Regions from separate parts of the Homo sapiens genome. Here region 1 is linked to region 2. The links come from fine-mapping of genetic effects on gene expression. A gene starts in region 2. The other region holds a variant in brackets. All regions are shown on one strand. Distances are between the middles of the regions.

Evidence for each region. PIP is the estimated chance that this variant, and not a neighbour inherited with it, causes the effect.
Region 1: its variant is fine-mapped to the expression of HTR6 in whole blood (INTERVAL, PIP 0.99).

What each region holds. Positions count from the first base shown.
Region 1 is chr1:19,686,578-19,689,579 of GRCh38, reverse strand. All of the region lies in intron 15 of TMCO4 (transmembrane and coiled-coil domains 4), which reads left to right. Among named protein-coding and RNA genes, the nearest start is that of HTR6, 23 kb to the right of the region's middle. RefSeq lists an enhancer at 18-532. The variant A/G (reference allele first, on the strand shown) is at 1,246.
Region 2 is chr1:19,663,354-19,665,853 of GRCh38, reverse strand. It overlaps HTR6 (5-hydroxytryptamine receptor 6), which reads right to left and starts at 979. Exons shown (of 3, transcript NM_000871.3): 1 at 1-979. The coding sequence starts at 100. RefSeq lists enhancers at 1-184, 185-1,157 and a silencer at 936-1,165.

The DNA of each region.
Region 1 (3,002 bases), 23 kb before region 2:
TGGTTTACTGGCTGTGTGACCTTGGGCCAGTTACTTAACCTCTCTGTGTCTCAGTGTCCTCATCTAGGAAATGGTGGAAACGCCTAACTTCCAGGGCAGCGCATGTAAGATGCTTGGTGCATAGTAGGCCCTCCTTTAATCCTAGTCCCTCCCGGCCTGCCCCTGCCACCACCCCCAGTTTGTTTGCCTCTGGGACCAGCAGTTTTGGAGACTCCGCTCCCTCCTCAGGCTGTCTTCGTGGCAGCTTCCCAGCTCCTGCCTAATAATAGCTCTTTATCACATTAGGAGTACATCACAAAAAACAGTGCTTTCCTCTTCTGGGTAATTAGAGGTAATTAGCACTGCCTTTGTGCTGGCCTCCTGTTTTCCTTGAAAATGCTTTGCTGGAGAAGTTGCTGGCAAGGGAGGTTTCATTACTGCTGTTGGGGAAATGCTGGCCACCCTCTGCTCCCAACAGAGACCCACAGGACCTGTCTTCTCCCTGCTGGGCCAACCACGCAGCAGGGCCCTTTGTGATCATCCCACTGGGCTGGCCCTGTTGCAGGCAGGGCGCATCTCTGGGGTGAATGAAGCTGCCCTCCTGCCCCTCAGTCTCTCCTCACAGGGACAAGGTTACAGTGGGTGGGGGATTTGCCACCCCAGGGACCAACTCATGAGGCTTCTGGGGCACAGAGATCCAACCCACGGCAAGATTCTCCATGTCCCAGCAGAAATGCCAGGTGGCCTAGAACTTAGCAAAAGGCTTGGCACAAAGTAGATACTTGATAATAACCGCAGTAGCCAACAACTCACATGTTTTACGGGGTAAGTCATTTGATCCTCATAGAGGTCCTGCATAGTGGTAGTAACCCGTTGTACAGGTGTGAAAACTGAGGCTGCAGGCGGTGCCACGGCATGTGAGTGGTAGAGCCGGATGAACCTGGGCTGTTAACCACTGCTTCAGTACTGCCTGCATTCACACATCTCTGTAGCTTCTGGTAGTGGCCTCTAACCCTGTGCCAATAAGCCTGTTACATGTATTATCAAAGCCACACAGCCAGCCCACGTGGTATAGGTCTCTTTATTAGCCTCATTTTATACATGAGGAAATTGAGGTCCAAGAAGTGAAAGAACCCAAAGGGGCCTGATGGGCTTGGAAGGAGTCACTGGGGCAGATGGAGGTGGGTGATGGCAGCCTCTGTTTGGGTAAGTTGGGGTGTCTTTTGAGGCAGGAAACAGGAAGGGCTGGGCCCCATTTGTACCTGC[A/G]GGGATCTGGTTCCCACGGAAACCCCACGATGTGCGGGGCTGGCTGTGGGGCACAGAGGTGAGTGAGAAGTGGTCTCTGCTCCCCTGCGCTCAGTTTATCAGGGAACGCAACCTCATGAGCATGTGACGATGACAGGTTATGAGTGCCATCACAGGGTGTCCACAGAGGCCCCTGCCAACACGGGAAGCCACGGAAGGCTTCTGCACGCCAGTCACATCCGGCGTGTATCCAGGCAGCTGGCAGATTCAATCAAGACAGCCTGGGAGATGGTCAGGGGCTGAATCTTCACGCAGTATCGGCTACACCAGAACTTTCTGGTGCTGAGAAGAGGCTCTTTCCCGACCTGCCTCACCCCTCTTCTCTCATCTCTCCAGCTAACTGTAAAACCAGAGCTCTGCCCAGCAACTGCTCCCCTGGGTCTTTGCAGAGGGGTGGCTCAGGGACTAGGGTTGCCTGAGACCCAGACCAACTTGTAGTCGAGGAGGGCCAGAGCTGTGTGTTCTAGGACAGCTCTCAGTGGAATTTCCATCTGGTATCAGCTGCAGCCAGTGGGTACCAACACCTCCCTTCCTTCCTGGCCTGTTTCTACCCAGCACTGGCACCAGCCATCTACAACATTAAAAAGGTATAGGGAGGCAGTTCTTGTTTGTCCTTAGAGAGGCAGTTATCACTTGTCCCTGTGGGTCTGAAGTTTCTGCTGGCTGGAATTCAGATGTGATGGCTGGAGCTTGAGCAGCCATCTTGGGCTCCCAAATGGATCAGCCCAGCTAACTCCCTACTCTCCATCCCCCACTCGTAGGAAACTAAGGTAAGGGAACTCATATTTACAGAGTACCTCCTGGGGTGCCAGGCACTGTGCTTCATGGTTTGTATTATTTCTTCCCAGCAACTCCTTTAGGTAGGTATCACTAACTCAAATTGCATGATGTCTCTTTAAAAGTGTTTGGGGCAGGGCATCGTGGCTCATGCCTATAGTCTCAGCAATTTAGGACGCTGAAGCAGGAGGATCTCTTGAGCCCAGGAGTTTGAGACCAGCCTGGAGAACATAAGAAGTCCCCATCTCTACATTTAAAATTTAAAAGGCCAGGTGCAGTGGCTCACGCCTGTAATCCCAAGCACTTTGGGAGGCCAAGGAAGGCGGATCACCTGAGGTTGGGAGTCCGAGACCAGCCCGGCCAACATGGTGAAATACTGTCTCTACTAAAAATACAAAAATTAGCCAGGTGTGGTGGTGCACATCTGTAATCCCAGCTACTTGGGAGGCTGAGGCACGAAAATAGCTTGCACCTGGAAGGCAGAGGTTGCAGTAATCCAAGATCATGCCATTGCACTCCAGCCTGGGCAACAGAGCAAGACTCCGTCTCAAAAAAAAAAAAAATTAAGAAAAACAAAAAGTGTTTTGGATCATATAGGAACATAATATCAAAAGCTAGCATTCTCTGAGTTCCTATGAAGTGCCAGGCCCTTGAACTCCTTATAGCAATCATTCAAGGTCATGACTCTCATTTTACAGATGGGGAAGCTGTGGTTCAGGAAATTGTGAGGACTGGCCCAGTTACTGGTAAGAGACAGAGCCAAGGCTGGTACCCCAGCTTTTCAGAGAGTCCAAACTTAGGTTCCTTCTCAGGCCCTGCAGCCACTAAATATGTGTCCTGCTGCAGAGGGGCACTGGCTGTGCCTTGACAACCACCCTGAGCCCAGGGCCCTGAAAACCACTTAGATGTGTGAATACACGTGTGTGTATTTTCCCTGGAAT
Region 2 (2,500 bases):
ACAGCGCGGCCGCCACCCAGCCGCTGCCCCCCGGGGCCGACGGCGGCCCTGCCCCCCAGGCCGGGGTGCTATTGGCGGTTGGGCCCGGCTCTGGGACCATGAGGACCGAGGGTGGACGGCAAGGGAGTGATAGGGTGGCGGGAAAGCAGATGAGGGCCCCGGCGAAGCGCAGGCTGGACGGGGACCGTCCGTGAGAACAGACCGCGACTCACCACGCCCCCCGGGGGAGGTGAGTGGGGGGACATGGGCGGGGGCGCTGGGTCGCGCTAGGTCAGGGGGCAGCGACTACAGGAGGACACAGTGTGGCTATTTGGGCGCCCTCGGGGATGGGGCAGGAACTCCTGGAGCAAACGGGTTGGAAGTTTGGGGAGGGGCACCCGATGAGCCGAGGCCCCTGAAGGAAGCGGCGGGAAGTCAAGCAGAGGTCGGATGGGCTCCCTGGGGTGGGAGCAGAGCCCCCTGGAGGGGGCGGGCGGCAAGATAGGGGAGGGGCGTCCGGCCGGGTCAGAGTGCGGGGAAGTGGGAACGCGGGGAGGTGGGTGAGGGGGGTGAATGGGCGCTCTCGGGCCGGAGCAGGCTCCCCGCGGCCGGTGGGCGTGTGGGGTACCAGGGCGGGGGCCTAGGGGCCGGAGCAAAGCCGCCCCTGGGAAAGGCAGGTCTCAGCTGGCGCGGAGGCACCGGGATCCGGCGCACACGGCCTGTGCGGCGCGGGGGTTCGCCGGGGCCGCCAGGCCCCGCGGGAAGAGGAGGGCAGCGGCCGCGCGGCGCCCCCTCCCCACCCGGCAGCAGGGTCGCCTCCGTCTCCCGCCCGCACTGGTACCTGGGGCGCTCTGGCTGCTCCGCCGCCTGCGACTGCGGCAAGCGCCGCGGGGCTGCGAGAGGAAGAGGCGGCCGCGGGCCGGGCGGGCGGCGGGACCGGGTCTCCCGAGCCCGGGAGGCGCCGCGAGGGGCCCGCACGCGCGGAGGAGAGGCCGGGTGCAGCCTGGAGCGCGCGGTCCCCGCGCCGCGGAGCGTGCGCCCCGCCTCGCGGTGGGCGGGGAGAGCCGAGCCCTGGCCCTGCAGGAGGGCGGGGTCCCGGCACCCCGGGCCTGTGGGCCGAAGATCAGAGCGCCCCAGCTGCGAGGGGTCACCTCCCGGGCTGTGGCAGCCCCCACACCCTCAGATGCCCCTCCCAACCCACACGTGGCGGCGGCGCAGGCGGAACTGGGAGCAGGGGGCTGTGACCTGCCCTTATCCAGGGGCTGCTCTCTAATGGGTGCCTGCCCACTCACAACGGGGTCACCGGGCTTTCAGGGGAGCCAGGAGTTGGGAAATATTGGACAAATCGCCTGACACCCCTCTGGGCCTCAGTTGCCATATCTGTAAAATGGGTTAGTAATTCTGGGCATTCTTCACCGTTAGTTTGAGCAAGAAGCTAACCTTCCCCAGGGCCTTTCCCGCAGAAACCATCCCGATCCCCAAAGGGGCCAGGTACTAAGGATGAAGTCCCTGAGCTGTTGGCGCTCCTAGTCTAACAGAGCGTGAACAGATTTGAGAATCCCCAGGCCAGGTGTGTTAAGAGTCGCTGCAGGCAGAGGCGTGGGGTGTGGTTTCCCCTGGGTGTGACCTCCCTCTGTACGTCTCCCCTCTGGCTGAGAAGAGTCTCTGCCTAACACTGCTGTGCAGGTTAATACTGTTATTCATTCATTCATTGAACAGATACTTCAATGCATCTTTTAAGGCGCATCCACTAGATGTCAGGCACTGTTCTGACCCATCAGGACACTACAGTGGCCAAAACAAAGATCCGCACCTCCATGGAGCTTACATTCTAGTGGAAGAAACAGACAATAAACAATAAGCATAATCAACAGAGAAAGTGGGCCCAGCGAGGTGGCTCACGCCTGTAATCCCAGCACTTTGGGAGGCGGAGGTGGGCAGATCACCTGAGGTCAGGAGTTCGAGACCAGCCTGACCAACATGGTAAAACCCCGTCTCTATCAAAAATACAAAAATTAGCTGGGCGTGGTGGCGGGAGCCTGTAATCCCAGCTATTCGGGAGGCTGAGGCAGGAGAATTGCTTGAACCTGGGAGGCAGAGGTTCCAGTGAGCCAAGATTGTGCCACTGCACACTCCAGCCTGGGTGACAGAGCAAGACTCTGTCAAAAAAAAAAAAAAAAAAAAAAAAAAAAAGGAAAGAAAGAAAGAGAGAAAGGAAAGAAAGAGAAAGAAAGAAGAGAAAGAGAAAAAGAAAATGTAGTATAAAGAGAACGGGGTGGGATCATTTTTTCTCCACAGAAACAGAAAAATAATACTTTCCAAATCGAAGGCTCCTGCGCTGTCCCCAGGGGCTTTGTTGTACGGTTCCTACTCCTCCAGTTATTTATTCCGACCCCTACAATAATGCTGAGAGGTAGACGTTAAACTGGGGTTCAGAGAGGCCAAGGGCCTTGCCCCAGATCACCAGCAGCAAGTGGTGAAGTGGACCTGAAACCCAGATCTGCTCGATGCCCATGGCAAA